Linked DNA regions of Homo sapiens. The protein of the gene in region 1 interacts with the protein of each later gene in a pairwise test. Each region holds a gene or a part of one and is shown in the gene's direction. Other genes may lie near its edges. The genes, in order: HOMER3, LHX2, C1orf116, SAXO4, MIA3, MDM1 and CCDC120.

What was found.
Region 2: the proteins of HOMER3 (region 1) and LHX2 interact in binary tests that used the Homo sapiens proteins (3 or more experiments, as listed by UniProt).
Region 3: the proteins of HOMER3 (region 1) and C1orf116 interact in binary tests that used the Homo sapiens proteins (3 or more experiments, as listed by UniProt).
Region 4: the proteins of HOMER3 (region 1) and SAXO4 interact in binary tests that used the Homo sapiens proteins (3 or more experiments, as listed by UniProt).
Region 5: the proteins of HOMER3 (region 1) and MIA3 interact in binary tests that used the Homo sapiens proteins (3 or more experiments, as listed by UniProt).
Region 6: the proteins of HOMER3 (region 1) and MDM1 interact in binary tests that used the Homo sapiens proteins (3 or more experiments, as listed by UniProt).
Region 7: the proteins of HOMER3 (region 1) and CCDC120 interact in binary tests that used the Homo sapiens proteins (3 or more experiments, as listed by UniProt).

The regions. Positions count from the first base shown.
Region 1 is NC_000019.10:18,928,703-18,931,217, reverse strand, and holds the end of HOMER3 (homer protein homolog 3), read left to right. Parts: intron 1-1,583; coding exon 1,584-1,775; 3' UTR 1,776-2,015; downstream 2,016-2,515. UniProt on the Homo sapiens protein: Postsynaptic density scaffolding protein. Binds and cross-links cytoplasmic regions of GRM1, GRM5, ITPR1, DNM3, RYR1, RYR2, SHANK1 and SHANK3.
Region 2 is NC_000009.12:124,028,768-124,031,284, forward strand, and holds part of LHX2 (LIM/homeobox protein Lhx2), read left to right. Parts: intron 1-2,517. UniProt on the Homo sapiens protein: Acts as a transcriptional activator. Stimulates the promoter of the alpha-glycoprotein gene. Transcriptional regulatory protein involved in the control of cell differentiation in developing lymphoid and neural cell types.
Region 3 is NC_000001.11:207,022,757-207,026,256, reverse strand, and holds part of C1orf116 (specifically androgen-regulated gene protein), read left to right. Parts: intron 1-1,192; coding exon 1,193-1,370; intron 1,371-2,776; coding exon 2,777-3,500. UniProt on the Homo sapiens protein: Putative androgen-specific receptor.
Region 4 is NC_000011.10:61,484,120-61,487,619, forward strand, and holds part of SAXO4 (stabilizer of axonemal microtubules 4), read left to right. Parts: intron 1-568; coding exon 569-697; intron 698-1,218; coding exon 1,219-1,282; intron 1,283-1,679; coding exon 1,680-1,792; intron 1,793-2,224; coding exon 2,225-2,284; intron 2,285-2,404; coding exon 2,405-2,491; intron 2,492-2,828; coding exon 2,829-2,942; intron 2,943-3,026; coding exon 3,027-3,121; intron 3,122-3,500.
Region 5 is NC_000001.11:222,621,097-222,624,596, forward strand, and holds part of MIA3 (transport and Golgi organization protein 1 homolog isoform 1 precursor), read left to right. Parts: intron 1-62; coding exon 63-196; intron 197-2,210; exon of another isoform or gene 2,211-2,255; intron 2,256-3,500.
Region 6 is NC_000012.12:68,308,363-68,311,862, reverse strand, and holds part of MDM1 (nuclear protein MDM1), read left to right. Parts: intron 1-3,500. UniProt on the Homo sapiens protein: Microtubule-binding protein that negatively regulates centriole duplication. Binds to and stabilizes microtubules.
Region 7 is NC_000023.11:49,065,499-49,068,998, forward strand, and holds part of CCDC120 (coiled-coil domain-containing protein 120), read left to right. Parts: coding exon 1-130; intron 131-248; coding exon 249-347; intron 348-1,677; coding exon 1,678-2,592; coding exon of another isoform or gene 2,593-2,614; exon of another isoform or gene 2,615-3,045; coding exon 3,046-3,160; 3' UTR 3,161-3,500. UniProt on the Homo sapiens protein: Centriolar protein required for centriole subdistal appendage assembly and microtubule anchoring in interphase cells. Together with CCDC68, cooperate with subdistal appendage components ODF2, NIN and CEP170 for hierarchical subdistal appendage assembly.

The DNA.
Region 1 (2,515 bases):
GTGGAAGGCCTGATGCCCAGCAGGTGCCGCGTGAACAGTGGCTGTTGGTACAGTTTCATATCCATCTATGGGTTCAACAAGCAATGCTTGAGTTCCTGCTGTATTCCCATGCCAGACCCCGTCAATTCCTCCTGTTCTCAGCCTGAGATCACAGAGCCTGCATTGGAACTAGGTCTGGCTTGGCTTGGCTTTATTTTTTTTTAATTCTTTGAGATGGAGTCTCGCTCTGTTGCCCAGGCTGGAGTGCAATGGCACGATCTCAGCTCACTGCAACCTCCACCTCCCGGGTTGAAGCAATTCTCCTGCCTCAGCCTCCTGAGTAGCTGGGATTACAGGCGCCCGCCACTACACCCAGCTAATTTTTTGTATTTTTAGTAGAGACAGGGTTTCACCATGTTGGCCAGGCTGGTCTCAACTCCTGATCTCATGATTTGCCCGCCTCGGCCTCCCAAAGTGCTGGGATTACAGACATGCGCCACCGTGCCCGGGCATTTTTTGTGTTTTTAGTAGAGATGGGGTTTCCTCATGTTGGCCAGACTGGTCTCGAACTCCTGACCGTGAGCAATCTGCCCTCAGCCTCCCAAAGTGCTGGGATTATAGGCTTGAGTCACCACGACTGGCCTTGGCTTGGCTTTTGCTAAAGGCTTTATCTGAGAAATGTTCAGGGGGTACTTTTTTTTTTTTTTGAGACGGAGTCTCACTCTGTTGCCCAGGCTGGAGTGCAGTGGCGCAAGCTCCGCCTCCCAGGTTCACTCCATTCTCCTGCCTCAGCCTCCCGAGTAGCTGGAACTACAGGTGCTCGCCACCATGCCCGGCTAATTTTTTGTATTTTTTGGTAGAGACGGGGTTTCACCATGTTAGCCAGGATAGTCTCGATCTCTTGACCTTATGATCCACTCGCCTCGGCCTCCCAAAGTGCTGGGATTATAGGCGTAAACCACTGCGCCCAGCCTTTTTTTTTTTTTTTTGAGATGGAGTCTCACTCTGTCACCCAGGCTGGAGTGCAGTGGCGCGATCTCGGCTCACTGCAAGCTCCGCCTTCTGAGCTCAAGCGATTCTCCTGCCTCAGCCTCCAGAGTAGCTGGGACTACAGGTGTGCACCACCATGCCCAGCTAATTTTTGTATTTTTAGTAGAGATGGAGTTTTACCATGTTGGCCAAGCTGGTCTTGAACTCCTGACCTCAGGGGATCCACCTGCCTCCGCCTCCCAAAGTTCTGGGATTACAGGTGTAAGCCATCACTGGGCGTGGTGGTGTATGCCTGTAATCCCAGCTACTTGGGAGGCTGAGGCAGGAGAATTGCTTGAACCTGGGAGGCGGAGGTTGTAGTGAGCCGAGATCACGCCATTGCACTCCAGCCTGGGCGACAAGAGCGAAACTCCTTCTCAAAAACAAACAAACAAACAAAAGAAATGAGGGCAGAAGCTAGGCCCCTGTGGGGTGTGCATTTTATTCCTGGTGTGTTGGGCGCCCTAGGATGGCTCTGGGCAGAAGAGGGACATGAAGGTGGTCAGACTCTGGATGCCTCGGGCAGGACTGGTGATTTGTTGGGGCCCCCAACCCTGCCCACCCTTTCCTGGCAGGACCTGGAGACCCGCAATGCGGAGTTGGAGCACCAGCTGCGGGCGATGGAGCGCAGCCTGGAGGAGGCACGGGCAGAGCGGGAGCGGGCGCGGGCTGAGGTGGGCCGGGCAGCGCAGCTGCTGGACGTCAGCCTGTTTGAGCTGAGTGAGCTGCGTGAGGGCCTGGCCCGCCTGGCTGAGGCTGCGCCCTGAGCCGGGGCTGGTTTTCTATGAACGATTCCGGCCTGGGATGCGGGCCAGGCTGCAGGCGGCATAGTTGGGCCCATTCGTCCTGGAAAGGGACTGGGGGGTCCCAACTTAGCCCTGGGTGGGCCGGGCCGGGCTGGGCTGGGGTGGGCCCCAGTCGGCTCTGGTTGTTGGCAGCTTTGGGGCTGTTTTTGAGCTTCTCATTGTGTAGAATTTCTAGATCCCCCGATTACATTTCTAAGCGTGGCTGTGTGTGTGTGGTATGTGGGTATCTGGGCACTTAACATGTCGCCGGCGCCTTTCCCTGCGTCTTTTTGGGTGCCCCTGAATCCATGTAGCAGTTATAAGCCGCTTGCAGATGAGGGGTGAGGCTTGGAGTCCGAGGGGGGTCCAGGCCACACAGCCAGGAAGCTGGCTCTGGTGTCTCTCTGCCTGTCCCCTTGGGCTTAGCCCACATTGTCTGGCCAAATTTGGACTTTCATGGCCCCTTCACTCTGGCCACAAACCCCAGATGTGGCCAGGTGGGTGGCCAGGGAAGCTTATAGCTGCACCCATTCGGCACAGGACTGACCTCACCAAAGCCTCACAGCTGCCTCTGGAGAGCAGGGCAGTTGCTATGCCCATTCTCCAGATGAGGAAACTGGAAGCCCAGAGAAGGGGCTTCAGGGCCCAAAATCCCATGGCCATTCGAGCAGCTGGTGTCTGCAAAACTTTGGGCCTGCCTGGTGGAAATGGACATGGTGTTC
Region 2 (2,517 bases), on another chromosome or scaffold:
CCTTTGGCAAGTGGTTTTACCACTCTGACCCTCTCTGGTTTTTAAATCTATACAGTGAGGGCAGGCACGGTGGCTCATGCCTATAATCCCAGAACTTTGGGAGGCCAAGGTGGGCGGATCACCTGAGGTCAGGAGTTCAAGACCAGCCTGGCCAACATGGTGAAACTCCGTCTGTACTAAAAATACAAAAAAATTAGCCAGGCATGGTGGCGGGTGCCTGTAATCCCAGCCACTCAGGAGATTGAGGCAGGAGAGAATCACTTGAACCTGGGAGGCAGAGGTTGAAATGAGCTGAGATCGTGCCACTGCACTCCAGCCTGGGTGACAGAGCAAGACTCTGTCTCAAAAAATAATAATAATAATAATAATAGTCAATAAATAAATCTATAAAATGGGAATAATAATAGTCGAATCCACCTACTTGGCTTTTCATGGGAATAACCTGTGGCAGTGCATGCTGGAGGGTGGCATGGAGCCTGGCACATAGTAAAAGGTACATACATGTCAGCCATTCCTATGAATACATATTACTGATTCTTAATCTCTGCCAGTCTCTGCCATGCACCGGGGGACATGAAGATAGCATAGAAAGGGTCCCTGCTCCCATCAAACTCTCAGGAGTGGACTTTTTGAAATACCTGGGAGAGAATTCTAGTGAAGCCCTGACAACATGAAGAACAAACCCCACACAACCCCAGAGCAGCCGGGCTTTTAATGAAGTTGTTGAATTTTCATCTACCAGATTCCCAGTGCCTCAGCTCTGGAAAGCAGAGAAGGTAGTTGTGGACGATGGTGTCATTGTTTACAAGCCCACTGTTAGGGGCAACAGCCTGAGAAATAGCAAACAGCCGGCAACTAACCGGGTCCAGCCCTGCCCGAGGTCTTGGAGCCCCGGATGGATGAGCAAATGAGCACCCGGCAAAGCACCCTCAAACCCTCGACCCAGGCTCCCCGCTCCAGCTACTGCTCTGAGAGTCAGACGCACAGAGCACAGGCTGCTCAGGGGTCACACGCACACAGGCCAGGACAGTGGCAAGGCAGCGGCACCAAGGCTCCGGCCTTCTCCACCCCAATCTGCATGACTTTGGGGAAGTCACTTCCTCTCTCTGAGGGCCTCTGGGGGCTTCCCCATCCATTTTCTTTAGGCCACCAGGACACAGTCTCTCCCCTACAGATTTCTGCTGGCCGGGAAAGGGAAGGACCCCCCCACCCCAGGGAAAGCATGTCAAGGGTGGTCTGAGAAGCACTGTACTTATTTGCCAGCCCCCAGAAGGGGTGATGGGCTTTCTTTGGGCGGAGAGCCAGGGAAAATGTGCCTTCTTCCTGGGAAGATCCAGCACTGAGGAGGGAGCTTGGTTTCTCCACTTCACAGGGTCTGGATCTCCCACTTTACTCCAAGATTCTTGTGGATTTGCTTTTAATTGAGCCCAAATTGTGTTACGCCACCAGAAACGGGGGTTTGAGGCCACAGGCCCCTGCAGCCGGGGTGGTCCCAAGGGGTGCGTGGGGCCAGGAGTCAGCCCTCCCTCTCCTGCCAGAGACACTGGGAAGACAGGCAGATGCAGGACATCTGGAAATGCGCAACTGGACACCCCAGAATCTGCAGAGTGCCCTGAGGCCCTTTGTTTTATGGGGAGGCTTCTGGCGGGTGTTTTCCTCACGCAAAGGGAAGTGAAGGGGCCCTGCCTTTCAGGACTTTTTCCTTGGAAGGTTCAACCCCCCCAGAGTGGCCTGGATTTCCTAAGCCCCTCCCAAAGTACTTCGTGGACCTCTGGGTACAGCGGGTCCCTGTGTTTGTGCTGTTAGATGGGTGGTGGTACTTAGGTGCTGGCTGTGTAGATGAATTTCATTTTTCTTTTCTTTTTTTTTTTTTTTTTTTTTTGAGATGGAGTCTTGCTCTGTGGCCCAGGCTGGAGTGCAGTGGTGGGATCTTGGCTCACTGTATCCTCCGCCTCCCGGGTTCAAGCAGTTCTTCTGTCTCAGCCTCCCGAGTAGCTGAGGTTACAGGAGCGCACCATCACACCCAGCTAATTTTTTATATTTTTAGTAGAGATGGGGTTTCACCATGTTGGACAGGCTGGTCTCGAACTGCTGACCTCAAGTGATCCACCTGCCTCGGCCTCCCAAAGTGCTGGGATTACGGGCTTGAGCCACTGTGCCCGTCCTTAGATGAATTTCTGTGTGTCTTCCTGAATGCTTACAGGCGTGTGTGCAAAGATATGGGAGTGGACGCGTGTGTGTCTGTGCCCAAGGAAAAATGAAAGTAAACCCATGTTCTCTCACTGACATTCTTTTCAGACAGAGCTCAGCCCCAGCTCTGCGCCCCGCCGCACGTCCCTCATAAGTCGATACGGGATGCAGCAGGTCGGGAGAGAGACTCTGCGGGTTTCAACTTCCCTGGCCTCACTTTAATTTGGCTGCCGTTCCCACGCTGCCTACCTCCACCCACCTCCACCCTGAGACCTGACACCCAGTGGCCCAGGGTACCTGGTGGCTCCCCCAACCGATGATGGGGAT
Region 3 (3,500 bases), on another chromosome or scaffold:
TAACATGTAGGCCCACATGCGAAAGGAAGTTCCAGAGGCAAATGGAAGGGTTATTCTGCAACCCTCTCCCCTCCCTCCAGGATATTTTTAGAGCTGTCTCAAAATCTTTCCTGGCCATCTGAGTGGGCCTGAAGAATATACAACTCTGAAGTGTCCCAAATATTAGGAAAAGGGCTGGAGATGCCAAGAAGAGACTTGGCCCAAATTTCTTATATTCCAATTTGCCCTTTTGTTTTCCCTTCAACCTCCTCTGTGGAAGAGCAACTATTCCAGCAAACTTCTAGCCCCATACAACATAGACAGTAACTGTCTGAGATGACCATTATTATTTTCTTCCAAAAACCTCTATGTACTCTCTCATAATGAATATGATCTACTTTAAGATCTACTTAATATTTAATACTAAGCTGCTTTTCCCTCCTCCCATACCATCCAGTTTCTCCACCAACCTCCCCCTTTAAGTTAATATTTGCTTTAGAAATGCACACTTACTTGAACATTAGCCAGAGCCAAATGTCATCAAGAAAGTAAATGTACAAGGGGAAAAATTCCCGTATGGAATGCATTTCAAAGTCAAGTACAAATCATTTAGTACATTTATCTGTGGCCAGTCATGCCACAGTTCCTACTGGCCTGGCAGCTCATAGCTGGCTTCATTTCCTGCTTTTCCTCATACTGCCCTTGACATACCAGATCAAGTATGCAGAAGTACTTTTAAAAGTTAAAAGCAATACCACTGAAGTTTCAGGTCAAATTGTTATGTTGCACTTCTTATTTGGAGCTAAATCAGAGGTGCTCAAAGTGAGATGTTTGACAAAGGCTGTCAAACATTGAAACTTGGGACTGCTTCTAATCTGTGCCCCTAAGCATTCAAGCCAGGACTGAGCAAAAGAAAGGCCCCTGCCATGTGCCTGCCCAGCTCCAGAGCTGGGCGCTAGTGGGCCAGCCTCCTGACAGACTCTGCCCTCCCTGGTGCCTACAGTTTCAGGAGGCAACTCCAGCAGCTTTGCAGAGTAGCAGGAGGGAAAGGTTTCCAGCTCTTCAGCATTCCTTCCTCTCTGCAGGGTGGTTCTCAGGCCCCGCCAGTTTCTGCGGAGGGAGCGCTTTCTCACAGCTCTCTCTCCCTCTCCTGTTCTTCTTCTCGCCCTCCCCCCCGCCTCCCCGCCCCCGCCCCCAACCCCAAACCCAACAGAGTGATAGCAGCTACGACTTCCTGTCCACTGAAGAGAAGGAGTGTCTGCTCTTCCTGGAGGAGACCATTGGCTCACTGGACACGGAGGCTGACAGCGGACTGTCCACTGACGAGTCTGAGCCAGCCACAACTCCCAGAGGTTTCCGAGCACTGCCCATAACCCAACCCACTCCCCGGGGTAAGGCAGACCCTCTGGGGTGGAACCCCAGCAAAACCCAGAAAATCAATATGTCCCCTCCGGCCACTTTCTACCTCGCCTGCCCTCTACCCCAAGGGTCACAGGCAGAAGAAGGTGTAGCCACACTCCTCACCACTCTCCTGGCTAGAACAGAGCCTTGTCCCTGGAGGGAAGGAGGGACCCCTGGCAAGCCAGCTTCCTATGTCTGTCTATGAAGTATCAGAGCTCTAGAAGGGAAAGGGGTTTGACCAGCTCCCATTCTCCTGTGGAAAAATTCTAAAGAGATATGACCGCAGAGGCGGGGGAGGGAGTCAGGGAGGGCTGGGTGGTTGGCTCTGGAGAGACTGAGTCAGTCTAGAGAGCTAATCTGGGTGACACAGAGGACAAGGGTAGGAGAGATAAGGAGAAGGAAGGGCTCCCCAGCTGCAGTGGGAAGTACCTCAAGGCCCTCGTTAGAGAGCGTGGAAAGCCAGTGGTATTCAGGCTCAGCAGAAGGGGAACAAAACAACACACAAGTGTGGCCATGACTGTGGGGCCACATGTCCCAGGGTGTGAGAAACCTTTTACTCCTGAGGACAGTCCCGCTGGTATTGGGGCTGCAGTTTTGTGTTGTTTCATTTAGCAAATATTTATTAACAAGTAGTTAGACCTTCCCTGGAGCTAGAGCTATAAATGGGGACGTAGGGCTTTCCTGCTCCATGAGGCTGATTCACTGGCCCAGGGGGCCTGATGTACCTGCCTAGCTCACTGGAAGGAAAGGAGTCACTTTCTGGTGTGGGGACACTATGGCTATTACAGAATTATCCACATGCTCATAGAAAGTGCAAGTAGAAGGCAGAAGCCTGGTTGAATCAAGAGCAAATCACTTATTCAGAGGCTTGCATTGGGCTCAGTTATCTGGGAGGCCCAAAATAGCTAGAAGGAACTGTCCCAAATTTATCTCCAACCCTGGTGCCTCTGTAGAAAACTGGGGAGAGGTCAAGTCAATAACTTAGAGCAATCAGGGGTCACTCTCTTGCCGCCCATCATGAAAAATTAATTCTCAGTCAAAAAAAGATATGCTATTATTATTTGTAGAAATGGGGGTCTCTTATGTTGCCCTGGTTGGTCTCGAACTCTTGGGCTCAAATGATCCACTTGCTTTGGCCTCCCAAAGTGCTGGGATTACAGGCATGAGACACTGCGCCTGGCCCTGGATCTGCTATTACTGATCTATTAGTCTAAATGATATCCAGACAAAAGTGCTGCTCTTGTAAAAGCAAAGAAAACAAGGCAAAATAAAACCCATTCATTGCTAGTTTGGGATCAGAGTTCAGGAAGTCATTGCTTTCCCCTCTGCAGCAGGGCCCTCACCTCTGTCCACTCTTTTTCTGTCCACTCTTTTATGTTCTTTCTGACCCTCACAGGAGGTCCAGAGGAGACCATCACTCAGCAAGGACGAACGCCAAGGACAGTAACTGAGTCCAGCTCATCCCACCCTCCTGAGCCCCAGGGCCTAGGCCTCAGGTCTGGCTCCTACAGCCTCCCTAGGAATATCCACATTGCCAGAAGCCAGAACTTCAGGAAAAGCACCACCCAGGCTAGCAGTCACAACCCTGGAGAACCGGGGAGGCTTGCGCCAGAGCCTGAGAAAGAACAGGTCAGCCAGAGCAGCCAACCCAGGCAGGCACCTGCCAGCCCCCAGGAGGCTGCCCTTGACTTGGACGTGGTGCTCATCCCTCCGCCAGAAGCTTTCCGGGACACCCAGCCAGAGCAGTGTAGGGAAGCCAGCCTGCCCGAGGGGCCAGGACAGCAGGGCCACACACCCCAGCTCCACACACCATCCAGCTCCCAGGAAAGAGAGCAGACTCCTTCAGAAGCCATGTCCCAAAAAGCCAAGGAAACAGTCTCAACCAGGTACACACAACCCCAGCCTCCTCCTGCAGGGTTGCCTCAGAATGCAAGAGCTGAAGATGCTCCCCTCTCATCAGGGGAGGACCCAAACAGCCGACTAGCTCCCCTCACAACCCCTAAGCCCCGGAAGCTGCCACCTAATATTGTTCTGAAGAGCAGCCGAAGCAGTTTCCACAGTGACCCCCAGCACTGGCTGTCCCGCCACACTGAGGCTGCCCCTGGAGATTCTGGCCTGAT
Region 4 (3,500 bases), on another chromosome or scaffold:
GTAGTCCCAGCTACTTGGGAGGCTGAGGCACAAGAATTGATTGAACTCAGGAGGTGGAGTTTGCAGGAAGCTGAGATCATGCCACTGCACTCCAGCCTGGGCAACAGAGCGAGACTCTGTCTCAAAAAATGTAAGTAATAAATAAATTAGAAGCGAAGGAGTTGCAACTGCAAATCGGGAGGGTCGGGAAAGAGCTTGCTATGGAGACACTGGACAAAAACTTGAGGGAGGCCAGCTCCTCCAGTTGCAGCTGTCTGAGGGAGGAGTGGTCCAGGCAGTGCCAACAGCAAGTGCAAAGGCCTCAAGGTGGGAACAGAAAGGAGACAAGCAGCTAGAGCAGGGTGAGGCACTCAGGTCCTTGCAGGCCACCAGGAGGACGTGGAATTCCCTGCGAGTGTGATGGGAAGGCTGCAGGGCTCTAAGCAGAGAGGGGACATGCAGGTTTCATTGTAAAAGGACCCCCTCTGGCTGCTCTGCAGATACTGCGCTCTGTAAAGGTCAAGGGCAGAAGCAGAGTCAGGGAGTGACTGCCGCCCCCTCACTTGTAATTGGCCCTTCTTCCTCCCAGGTCCGGAAGGTCCATTTCGACACCCAGGAGCACGGGCCTCAGGCCATCACGGGGCTGGAGCCCAGGGAAGTGCCTCTGCTCCACCAGCAGCAGGGCCAGGACCCGCTGGAGCGGGAGAACTTCCGACATGTGAGTGGCAGCCCAGCTAAGGGCTTCGGGGTGGGGCAGAGGGGCCACACCCGCCTCTTCCTCCCACCTCAAGACAAGTATTGCACTGACTCACCCAAGAAGCCAGCTCAGGGTGGGCTCAGGGCGCCAAGAAAGATGGGAGAGCAAAGGATTTGATATTGGCTATTTCCAAAATAGCCTCAATGTGGCTTCTCGCGATTTAACGCTACTCCTCTTCCCCCAGCCTTCCTCCTCCTGCTCACGGCCCCTCCTGGTCTCGGTCCCTCTGGGCCCCCCACTCATTACCAGGAGTCTGGTGTGGGGTGTGACGTGGTATTCATAGTCACAGGGGAACTGTGCTTTGTGCTGAAATTCCTGGCCCTGCGATGTCCCACCCCACAGAGACTTGTGTCCAGGGTGCTGTACTGGCCCACACAGGCTTCCTCAGAGCACAGAGAACCGAGGCGCCACTCCACCGCCGCCACACGCCTTCGGGGCCCTGGTGGGTCAGTGCCCCCACTCCTCCAACCTCTCTGTTCCAGGGCCCACGCTTCATGACGTCGGAGTACAATTCCAAGTATCTCAGGGACCCTCTAGACCAGCCAGGTAGGCCCTGTCTGAACTCACAGCTCCCTTCCCATCTTCCAATCCACCTCCCTACTTGCTACCCCAGGGGCCCTGGAGCTGGCCTAGGACTGAGAAGGCACCAGTGGAAGAAAGAAGGATGCACAGGTGGCTGGAGGGAAGCGCCTCTCCCGGGCTGACCTCAGTACCTTGGGCCTCTCAGGAGGGTGGCTTGGCCGGTGCATGCCCTTCCTGCTGCTCCCTCTCCTGTCCTCCGGCCTGGACTCTGGAATCCTCACCCTGCCACCCACGATCCTCATGGCGCAGGTCTCCAGGATCTTGGGATCCACTCCCTCTGCACCTGCTGGGACACTGAGCCTCTGGAGGACACATGGGTGGGCCAGGTGGCCTGGCAGCACACAGGGCATTTCTTTTGCAGATTTCTTGCAGAAGAAATCGATCGGCGCAAAGGAGGGGAGTGGCTTCACCAAACAGTCCCACCAGAGCCCCATTGTCTTCCAACCGCCCTCACAGGCCCTCCCTGGGGACCCTGTAAGTCGGCTGGGCTCCTGCTAGAACTTTAGGGGGCTTGAAGCCCTCCAGTCTCAGGGTTTCTAGCTTTCCTAAAGAATGTGAGCTGCAGAGCCCTTTGTTCAAACACAAGACGAAAGAGCTTAGGTGAAAACCACTGCTTTGGTCCAAGTCCCCCATTTATAGATGAGAAGACTGAGGTCCAAAGAGATGAAGGAGGTGTAGCCAATGTCATTCAGAGTTCAGACAAGAGCCCTGGCCTGCTGGTCCCATTCAGAGTCATGCCTTCCCCTGTCTTCTCCCCAAACACTTCCCTTTTCTCAGTGATGCCCATTTGAGCTGAGTCCTCCTCTGTGCTCAGCACAGCAGTGGCCTGGAGGCAGAGTGGGTGGGAGCCACCAGGGGCCCAGGCTGCCTCTGCGGGGCTGACATCCTCTGTGGGCCTATTTCCAGGCCCTCCTCCCAGGCCAGAGTGTCACCAAGTCAGACTTCCTCCCCAAGACTCACCTACATGTAAGCTGAGCTAGGGGGAGGCTGGGGACCGCCTGGCGGGGAGCAGTTAGAACATGGCTCTGGAAGGTGGTGGGGGAGGCAGCCACATCCTGGTGCCAGTGGCTGCTTTGCTCCCTCCAGGGAGATGAGTTCCTACCTGTGTTGGCCAGAGGCTCCAAGCGGGAAACAGCCTTCAGCCGAGGGAATGAAAGGATTCTGAACCCCAGAGTGAGTGGCCTTGGCGTCTTGCTCAGAGAAGGGAGAAGACAGGGAGGTTTCTGGGAAGAGGTGGCATTTGGGTCAGGCATTGAAGAATGAGAAGAATTAGGATATTTAGGGATGTGGAGGTAGGCCCTCAGGTGGAGGGTGAAGAGAGCCTGGGCCTTCCTGGGGGCTGGAAGATGAGGGGTGTGGTCTGAAATAGAATTGGCTGGAAGGGGAAGGGAGGGTCGCTGGGGCTGTGGACAGGTCACAGCTGTGTGTGCCTCTGCCTGCTCCCCTCTCCATCCCTGCTGCCTCAGGCTGGCCACCTCAGCCTCCCTTCTGGTGGTTCTGTGCCCTGCAGGTGCCCCCTCCCTGCCCAGAACCCAGCAGCGTGAGTCACCAGCAGTTTCAGCCACTTCATCGGATGCAACAGACAAACGTTGCCCTGCTTGGCCGGGAGACTGTGGGGAAAAAGGTGAGACTTGCTACACCTAGCCTCCACCCCCAAATCCCCACCCCTTCTGACTTGACAATTCCCCTGTCTACCCCTCTTGTGCAGGAGCCCACAGGGTTCAGCCTTAACAACCCCATGTATGTCCGGAGCCCCTGTGATCCTGACAGGGATCAGCGATACCTGACCACCTACAACCAAGGGTGAGGTCCGCTTCCTGGTCCAAAGCTGAAACCCATTTGAGAAACAGACTGAGACTGGGATAAGTAATGAGCTCACAGCCTCGTGGAGAAGATCAATGCTGAGTGAATATGGGTTCCCCAGAAGCATACCCTAAGCCAAGGATTGGAGTGCAAGCATGTTATCAGGCAGTTATTAGGCGTGTGGGAGTGGAGAAGAGGGATGAGGGAGGGAAGGCAGCAATAATGAGCATGTTACTAGGCCAGCTATCCCACTGGGAAAACTCTAGAAAACAGTGTAAAGCACACAACTCAGAACTACCCCAGTCAAAGGTGAGAGAGCTGGGGTATTTATACCCCCACATCCATCGGTCATTGGTTAAAGGCTATCCCCAGGGCAACA
Region 5 (3,500 bases), on another chromosome or scaffold:
TATGCACTGTGAACACTGAATCCTGATATCTGGCTATTTTTTTTCTCTCTCTTTATATACAGTGTTAATGTACCGCGGTGAGGCTCTTGAAGATTTCACAGGCCCGGATTGTCGTTTTGTGAATTTTAAAAAAGGTGATCCTGTATATGTTTACTATAAACTGGCAAGAGGATGGCCTGAAGTTTGGGCTGGAAGTGTAAGTAAAATATCGACATACTTTATTTGCTTAATTTTTATTGGCTTCTTTAGCACTGTAGAGTTAAATGACTGCATTTTCTTGGGACCTTTGATGGAGTTAACTTGTCCTCTCTGCCTGACTGTGAAAAAAGATGGCCCTGTGTCCCCAGCAGGCCTTGGGTCTGCACAGAGTAGGGGCTCAGCAGAGCCTTCTGAAATAGAACTGATTCTGGCAAGTTCCCCTCAGGGTCAACCTCTAGGATGCTGCATACGTATTAGAGGTTGAAATGGTAAGAGCTGAAAAATACTTCATTGCTTTAAAAAGGAAGTATTCATAGGAATTAGACTTACTCCTGTAAACTATATGTGAGAGAGTGTTTCAGGCATGTAAGCTTAAAGTTGATTTTATGTGTATTTCTTTGTTTATATTATTATTTATGAAAAAGTGGCAGTCTTGGGAACAGTTCCCTAATCATCTGTGCTATTATAAGTCTGTAAAAAAGCAAAATGTTGTTTCTCGTGTGCTTTCTTGTTTGTTTGTTTTTTTTTTTTTGAGGCGGAGTCTTGCTCTGTCGCCCAGGCTGGAGTGCCGTGGCGCGATCTCGGCTCACTGCAAGCTCCGCCTCCCGGGTTCACGCCATTCTCCTGCCTCAGCCTCCCGAGTAGCTGGGGCTGCAGGTGCCTGCCACCACACGGCTAATTTTTTGTATTTTTTTAGTAGAGACGGGGTTTCACTGTGTTAGCTAGGTCTCGATCTCCTGACCTTGTGATCCACCCACCTTGACCTCCCAAAGTGCTGGGATTACAGGCGTGAGCCACCGCAACCAGCCTCTTGTTTGTATTTTTGTTTGCAGCCTTGGGGTCATCCTTGTCCTGCTTTTCAGACACTTGTGTCTGGAGGTTACCCCAGGGGATTGATTCCCAGCTGATTTTATGGGTACCCTGCTATCAGACCTGGCAATCAATGACTGCATCATGCTTTGGTATTTTTAATGAGGAGATTCACTGGGAGTGACCTGATTGAGAGGCCTGTCTTATGAGTTATTGTCCTTTCCTTTTTAGAAAGCGTGATATGTGGACTGTGTCTTTACTTCAAGTAGTAAGGGTCCTCGATATCTTTAGGATTGTCCCAACTTAGAGAAATACCCATCCCGACTATGAAAGTTTTCACTGTCAGTAAAACACCAAACAAACAAAGAGAAAATAAGGCTTGAGAAATCCCCTTGGGGAAAATAGACTGATTTTGTTGGCATTCCAGGTTCCTAGGGAGTAATCTTGGGAAACAACAACTGGTCAGGTTCAGCTCTCCTATTTAGAGAGCATCCCAAGTGACTTGCTCCATACCAAAACAAATCTATTCTATTTCCTTCAAGTCTACCTAATGAGATTTGTTGATAATCTTTACTCTTGGAAATGTTTTTCCATGTACCTAGGCTGCGTTTTTTCATAGAAAAGTTAAGTTTTTTTTTCCACTCCTCATCTTTGAGCATTTGGATGAATGAACTTGACTTAACATTTTCCTCCCACTGCAGTTTTGCTCATTCACGTCTTCATCTCTGGATGTCCTGTCAGTCTTTCTGGGTCACACCTCTCATCCTGCCTTCTTAAGGAACGCTGCCTTCAGCACCCAGCCAGAAGGGATCTTTGCTGCCTGATGATTGTTTAGGTGGCACTTTGTTTGCACTGTTCATGTGGCATTTGCTTTACTGCTTTGTATGGCAGTTAATTTGTGTACTGTCTTAGCTCACGTAAAGTGAAAGACTCTTTAATGGAAAGGCTCATGCCTTATCTGTCTTCTTTTTCAGTATTTCCTGACGAGGCAGTGGCATTTATTTATATTTGTCCTGATATTATCTTATGCAGAATTTGTTCTCTTAAGGCGATACTCTACTTTCCCTCCTACCCCCCGCCCAAATGAAATCAACAGTACCTTGGCAGAAATGATGTATGAAAGCAAAATTAGACATAAAGATTTTTTCTTGTCATGTGAGCCTATGTTTTTTTTTTTGTTTTTTTTTTGGTCAAATCATAAGAAATGAGATGCCACCTGTGGTCCCAACTGACAAAGATTAAGGAAGGTAAATGTATTGTATTTCCCTTTCCCTATATACCTCTACCTCTGATTTGTTTCCTTTTTCCAGGTTCTCCCTTAAAATAGTCTCCCCTCTAATTTGATGAACCTTATTCTTAGGAAATTAAAAACTCTGTCTTCAGCTTTCAAAATGATTCTCATTTGTTTCTTAGTTTTCATTCTGCAGTCTTTTTTGGTTTCTTAGCATTTTAGACTTGATCTGCCAATAACACAGAGTTTAATTGCCCTTATCTAATCTCCATGGCAGTATTTTACTACTAATACTGGCTTTCAGATAGTTTTCAGATCAAGAGCACTCATGAATGGAGATGTTTTATGAATTAGTGATAAGATGGCCTTTTTTTCTTTTTGTGCATTTGATTTACATGCCAGCCTCCTCCTTTAATGATTGGGAGATCTACCTCTCCTTTCAGACAGTAGCTAGTAAAAGACTGTGTGTTTCTCAAGAGGGCACATTTTACTAGTGCTGAAAATGAATGGAATTATTTTCTGTAGAGATTTTGGTTTGCATGAAATGAAAGCTTGGTGGGCAGATTAGTGTGTATTACACTGTAATTTTGTTTTGTCTCCAGTTACCTGTAATATCGTTTTGGAAAATGGCAGTATAGCACATCATATGTGCAAATACAGTTCATCCTTGGGCAACACAGGTTTGAACTGTGTGGGTCCACTTATAATGCAGATTTCTTTCAATAAATATATTGTAAAATTTTGTGGAGGTTTGCATTAATTTGTTAAAAACTCTCAGACCGCATAGCCTAGAAATACTGAAAAAATTAAGAAAAAGGTATGTTATTGACATGTAAACCATATGTAGATCCTAGTGTATTTTATTCTTTACTACCATAAAACATACACAAATCTGTATAAAAAGTTACAGTTTATCAAAACGTACACACACAAACTCAGATCTTACATGGCACCTTTTGCAGTCGAGAGAAATATAAACAAACGTAAAGATAAAATATTAAATCATAATTGCATAAATTAATTGTGCTACCTACTGTACTATAATAGTTCGTAGCCACCTCCTCTTGCTATTCTAGTGAGCTCAAGTATTGTGAGTATCCACTTAAAATGCCATGCGACGCTAATCATTTCCACGTGAGCAGTTCATCTCTCCAGTAAATTGTACAGTGAGTAAAAAGTGATCTCTTGTGGTTCTCATGTATTTTTTGTGTTTAGTGCAATACTGTAAACCTTGAATAACACTCTGGGACCCATACAAAGT
Region 6 (3,500 bases), on another chromosome or scaffold:
AGGGACAAAAGCCTAAGTGCAAGTGAATTCAAGAGAAAAAAGAGGAGAAGAATTGGAGAAAGCTGCCACAGATAATTCTCTGAAGTTTCTTTTCCAAGAAGGGAAGCAGAGTAATGCAGGAGTAGTTGAGAGAAGTGAGAACAAGATGGAAGACACAACAGCATGTTTGTATGTTGACAAGAATAATTTTGGAGAGAGAAAAGTTGATGATGCAGGAGTGAGGGGAAAGTTGTTGGAAAGATGCTCTTGAGTAGGAGAAAGGGCTTAGGATCTGGTGGAGATATGGAAGGGTTGGCTTTAGACACTGATTGTTTCTTTATTGTTAAAAGAGGGAAAGCAGAATTCATGGGCAGGCACTGCTGATGAATGTAGGAAGATGTGATGGCAGCTTTTGGAAGACCTCTTCTTATTGCTTCTTGGTGACATGTGAAGAAAGATCCTTACTGAGAATAAGGCTGGGGAAGATGTTGGAGATTTGAGGAAAGTGAAGGCATAGAGTAGTCTTCTCAGAGAGTGGGAGAGTGAGTGGGCCAGGGGAATGTGGGATATTTTAGGCCAATGTTAAGGGGCCATTTTAAGTTGGTGGTCACAAAGTTGGCAGAAGACCAGTCAGGAAGGGTTGTGTGCCCTTCTCCAGTAATGTTTGGCTGCAGAAGTGCAGGATACTTTTATCAGATAGAGTTGGATTTACCTAGGGTTTTGAATTTGTCATGAGAATAAGACAAAGTGAGAAAAAGGGGAATGGAGTTGAGGTATATATGAAGAAGGGATTATAATGAGTTGGTGAGGGAAGGACACTGGGACTTGAGAAGAGTGCAGAGGTGATAGGATCGGTGGATGGATGGTCTAGGTAAAATAAAAGACTTGTTGGAATTGGGGCACCTGTGGGGATTAGTTTTAAAGTTAGGAAATGGTGGTCAGAAATTTAGGTTATGGAGAGGTTGCAGTTACCAGTAATGACAAGGCTTAACTTAACATCATGGGTGTAAGTGGTTGGAGTAGAATAGAGAACATTCAGAGAAAAGGTTGAAAATCTATAGGGAATTTTGCTGATGGCTGTTTGTGAATTTGAGTACAAAGTAGGAGTTTTCAGGGATTGGGAACAGGTGGGAGATGGGATCAGAGCACCCTCTACCTCTTAATCCCCAGTGCTTAGAACAGAGTCCAGCTCATAGCACGTAACAGATTGAATGAATGTTATTGGAGTGACAGAATATCAAAACTATTTCCTGTTGCTTATGTATACACTGGTTTATTAAAGGAAATGTGACATTAGGAATATGGTCAGAGGACTCATGAGAATCAGATCTTAATGGACTGTTTTACTCCTCCTTAGAAATCCAGGCTGCCATCTGGAAGGTGTGAGCTTTTAGGCAACTGTATACACACAGCTGATTCAGCCAAAACGAGTGACTCATCCATATTTGTGGCTGGATTTATATGTATTATTTTCACTTACTGTGGAATTAATTTATTGAATAATCTAAATAGAGTAATATCATCCCTTAGAATGTTAATGCCATTCTCTGTCTCACTGTGAGTACTATACACTTTTAACATTTTAATTACCAACTCCTCTAAAATAAGTTTCTGGCCTGGTGCGGTAGCTCATGTTTATAATCCCAGCACTTTGGGAGGCCAAGGTGGGAGGATCACATGAAGCCAGGAGTTCAAGACCAGCCTGGCCAACATGGGGAAATCTTGTCCCTACTAAAAATACAAAAATTAGCTGGGCGTGGTGGCAGATGCCTGTAATCCCAGCCATTTGGGAGATTGAGGCACAAGAATCACTTCAACCCAGGAGGTGGAGGTTGGAGTGAGCTGAGATCACGCCACTGCACTCCAGCCTGGAAGACAGAGGAAGACTCTCTCCAAACCAATAAATACATACATATGTACATACGTACACAAGTTTATTATTGACAACTTGATTGGATATCCTTCCATGTGAATTTTCTGCGACCAGCACTACCAGGGACTATACCAGGAGCTAGCTAGATTTGGTTATTTCCCAGTGTCTACCCCTTGGTTACTGGTAGGCAGAGGAGTCACTAAACTTTGATATACACCATCAGTTTTTCCCCTTATATTCTCTTATAAAAGCATTGATAAGAAATTACGTTATTATTATGTATAAAATTAAACCCATAGGTCATTCAATTTCCAATAAATTATCAGTATGTCCCAAAACTTTAGGGTAGAATTCTCATATTGGTTTGATCATCAGGAAACATTTTCAAATCTTTATATTAAAAACCCAAGTGTGGATTTGCTCACTTCATTCATTTAGCAGATTTACCCACATGCTATGGCAATGATAATGGATAGAAACAGACATGGTACATAATCTTATGAAACCTGCAGTCTGGTAAGGGAGATACATGTTAATCACACCAAAAAAGAAATGAAATTAAAACTAATAAGAGTTTCAAAATAAAAGTACTTAGCACTATTCTGGAAGGAATTGTTCTAATCATGGAGATCAGAAACCTTCTTGGAAGTCAATGATGCTTCTTTGAAAAACTCATAATTGAGCTAAGATAAAGGAGAAGAGGAAGCATTAACCAGGAAAAAAGGATGGGGAGAAGGAGCCTAGCATATGCCAAGATCTTGTGGAGAGAAACAATGTAGAGTTTGAGGAAACAAAGACCAATACAGTGTGTGGCAGGGAGCCTGGTACAACATGAGGCTGGAAAACATGGCAACATTGGGATTTCTTTCGTTATCTCAAGAGCAATGGGAAGCCATTGAAATATTTTCAGTATGGGAATTGTGATGGATATATGTTTTGCAAGATCTGTCCGGCTGCCATAGGAGGCAAGAGTAGGCTGTGAATGCCCTTAAAAGGCCATTGCAGTAGTCCACGTAGGAGGTGTTGGTAGCTTGGATGAAGGAGGGTAGGAATAGACAGAAGTGGATGAAACTGCACAATTATGTAAGGGGAACAATGTTAAGGTTGATGCTGGGTTGGATAATGGATGAGAGACAGGGATGCCTGCTAAGTTTCTGGCTTGCCCAACAAGATTGATGGAGGTACCATGCACTGAGCAAGAGAACTCTGGACAAGGAGCCTCTTTGGAGGGTAGTTTTATTTTCATTCATTCAATTCAATATTTAATAGGCTCTTACCAAGTGCCAGGCACTGTTCTAGGATCTGAGGATTTATTGATAATCAGGTCAAAATCCCTGCCTTCATGAAGCTTACATTTTCATTGGGAGGAATAGACAATTTTTTAAGAAAATAATTTCACATAGTAGTAAGCGCTGTGAATTAAATAAGACTACAGGTCTCTAAGGGATGGGTAAGACAGCTTTAGTTTGGGCCATCAGGACAGGCACCTCTAAGGAGATGACGTTTTAGCTGAGACCTGACTGATGAGGAAGGTGCCCATGCAGAGATCTGGGGCAGAGATTGTTTTCCAATTAGAAAGAACAGGGGCCGGGCGCAGTGGCTCATGCCTGTAATTCCAGCAGTTTGGGAGGCCAAGGCAGGTGGATCA
Region 7 (3,500 bases), on another chromosome or scaffold:
CCAAGGCTTGGGACCAGCTGCGGGCAGTATCTGGGGGGAGCCCTGAGCGGCGAACCCCATGGAAACCACCTCCATCAGATCTTTATGGGGATCTGAAGAGCCGGCGGAACTCTGTGGCCAGCCCCACCAGGTGAGAATGAGCCCCTCCTCCCCTCCGCAGGAGCTGGGAATGGGATAGCAAGCCTGGGCTGGCAGAGGGTCTGCTGGTGGGTACAGTCTCTAACCTAGGCCTGCCTGTCTCTGTCTAGCCCCACACGCTCGCTGCCCAGGAGTGCCTCCAGTTTTGAGGGGCGAAGTGTGCCTGCCACCCCTGTCCTCACCCGGGGCGCTGGCCCCCAGCTCTGCAAGTAAGGGGAATCTGAGGGTGGGCTGGAGGATCAGAGGGGAGGGAACCATTAGTTCTCACTGGAAGCTTGAGGACAACATTATCAAAAGGTGGGATGGCTGGGCGCGGTGGCTCACGCTTGTAATCCCAGCACTTTCGGAGGCCGAGGCGGGCGGGTTACTTGAGGTCAGGGGTTCAAGACCAGCCTGACCAACATGGTGAAACCCTGTCTCTACTAAAAATACAAAAATTAGCTGGGCATGGTGGGGCATGCCTGTAATCCCAGCTACTTCGGAGGCTGAGGCAGGAGAATCGCTTGAACCCGGGAGGCGGAGGTTGCAGTGAGCTGAGATCAACATCGTGCCATTGCACTCCAGCCTGGGCGACAAGAGCGAAACTCCGTCTCAAAACAAACAAAAAAACAAAAGGTGTGGGACATGGGAGGCTGGGCATTAAAGGTGAGCAGGCATCTCGGTGGATAATGGGGTAGGAGTCAGTCTCCTCATTTGTGAAATGGAAATAATAATATCTGCCTTTGAAAGACATGGACATAATAAGTTCTGGTTAACATATACTGAGTGCCTGCCATCTGCTAGGAATTAGTGTTTTACGTGGCATCAACTCATTTAATCATAATCAGATCCCTGTGAGGTGGGTGCTATTGTTATTCCCATTTTATAGATGAGGCAAGTGAGGCACAGAAAGGTTAAGTAACTTGTTAGTAAACTGAAGTCCTGGAGTTTGAGCCCAGGCAAGTTTTACTCTAGAGTCCATGCTTTTAACCACTGTCCTCTTCTGCTTCTTAAACAGAGTGCCTACTTTCCCCAGGCTCTGAACAAAACCAAGTCCCCTTCCTTGTGGGGCTTGCATTCTGTGAACGGTGGCTGTTGGGATGGTAGCTTTGGGTGGTTCATACGTATGGTCGGATAGAGAATTCAGGCAGGGTTTTACATGTGAGCCCTAAGGCCTAGGACTTAATCCTGGAGGCCGTGCGAGCCATGAGAACGGCCTTAGCAGGGGGAGGGGTCAGCTGGATTAGGAACAGCCCCCTGCCCGGCATCTACTCTGCTAGCCTTTCCTCTGAGTCCCTACACAGATTTACACCTCCCTTGGAGCTAACAGTGCCAGGCCTCCCCCACGCATTTCTACCCCTGACCGCCTAGCCTAGGATAGAACCTCAGCTGCCCTTTACATGTCACTACCTGCCACCTTTATACACACAGCTTCCAACCTTGGGCCCATTTGGAGATGTGAAAGTGAAGGCTTAGAAAGGGCTGGGGTAGGGAGGGCACTGCACGCCTTCTGCCTGATTTTTCTGACCCTATTCCCATGACCCTCGCCTCTCACCCCAGACCTGAAGGCCTTCATTCTCGTCAGTGGTCCGGCAGCCAGGACTCCCAGATGGGCTTCCCCCGGGCGGACCCTGCCTCCGATCGCGCCTCCCTCTTCGTAGCTCGCACCCGCCGCAGCAACAGTTCTGAGGCCCTGCTGGTGGACCGGGCCGCTGGTGGGGGAGCTGGCTCCCCGCCTGCCCCTCTGGCTCCCTCTGCCTCTGGCCCCCCAGTCTGCAAGAGCAGTGAGGTGCTGTATGAGCGCCCCCAACCAACCCCTGCCTTCTCCTCCCGCACAGCAGGCCCCCCAGACCCTCCCCGGGCCGCCCGGCCTAGCTCAGCTGCCCCTGCCTCCCGAGGTGCCCCCCGGCTCCCACCTGTGTGTGGAGACTTCCTCTTGGACTATTCCTTGGACCGGGGCCTGCCCCGCAGTGGCGGTGGAACAGGCTGGGGGGAGCTGCCGCCTGCAGCTGAGGTCCCAGGACCCCTCTCCCGCCGGGATGGGCTCCTCACCATGCTCCCCGGCCCACCACCTGTGTATGCAGCTGACAGCAACAGCCCCCTCCTCCGCACCAAGGACCCCCACACCCGTGCCACCCGCACTAAGCCCTGTGGCCTGCCCCCAGAGGCTGCCGAAGGCCCTGAGGTGCATCCAAACCCTCTGCTGTGGATGCCCCCACCCACCCGTATCCCCTCGGCTGGTGAACGCAGTGGCCACAAGAACCTGGCTCTGGAGGGGCTGCGGGACTGGTACATCCGGAACTCGGGACTGGCTGCGGGGCCCCAGCGCCGGCCTGTGCTCCCTTCCGTGGGCCCGCCACACCCACCCTTCCTCCATGCCCGCTGCTATGAGGTGGGCCAGGCGCTGTACGGGGCCCCCAGCCAGGCGCCACTCCCACACTCGAGGAGTTTCACGGCGCCCCCTGTCTCTGGCAGGTATGGGGGGTGCTTTTACTGATGGGTAGGGGTCTCGTAAGGCAGATGGCGAAGATATCCAGGCCAGGGAGTGGCTAGTCATGATAGCTAATGAATTGGACCATGAGGAAACTAGCTGCTGTGATGGCACAGGGTCACTCTACTGCACATGACCTGCATTAGTCCATGGGGTCCTGGTGGAGGGGATCTTGGGCACTGGTAGCAGCAATTCTTTATCAAGTTATAGGCTGAAGATGAGCCTTGAAGCCAGGGTGCCGGGAGGAAGGGACATCTCATGCCCCTTGCTGTTTTCTTCCTTTTTTCTCCATGCCCCAGAGCCTGAAAGTGCTGTCCTGTGCCTGCCTCCACCTCTTTAACGAGCCTCTTTTCCTTTCTTTTTCTGTGTCTTGTCTGTCTTTTCTTCTTCTTGTCTTCCCCGCCCTGTCCTCCGGATTCCTGCTACCCCTTCTAAAGATACTACGCGGACTTCCTGTATCCCCCGGAGCTGAGCGCTCGTTTAAGTGACCTGACGCTAGAGGGGGAGCAGTCCTCCAGTTCTGACACCCAGACCCCGGGGACACTGGTCTGACCCCTTCTGATATGTCCCTTGTTGGCCTGGGCACGATTCCAATCTGGGGAGCACACAGCTGACCTCGCTGGGCCCTGGGGTGTGGTTGCTCTCAGTCCTGAGCAGAGTGCGCCAACCTAATCTTCCAAGGCCCCTGGCTCCCCGTAGGCCCAGGAAGGTGTCTGACACCCTGCTTCTTCTCTCACACTGTGCTGGGGACTGGGGGCCCTCAGCTAGCTTAAAAGAGGGGGGATGATGTCATGGGGACCCCAAGCCCCTTCCTCCATTTATGTTTACAGTTGTGACTTAGGTATTCACTGTCTTCCTCCAACACTAGGCGTTTTACAAAAGGGAAACTGTG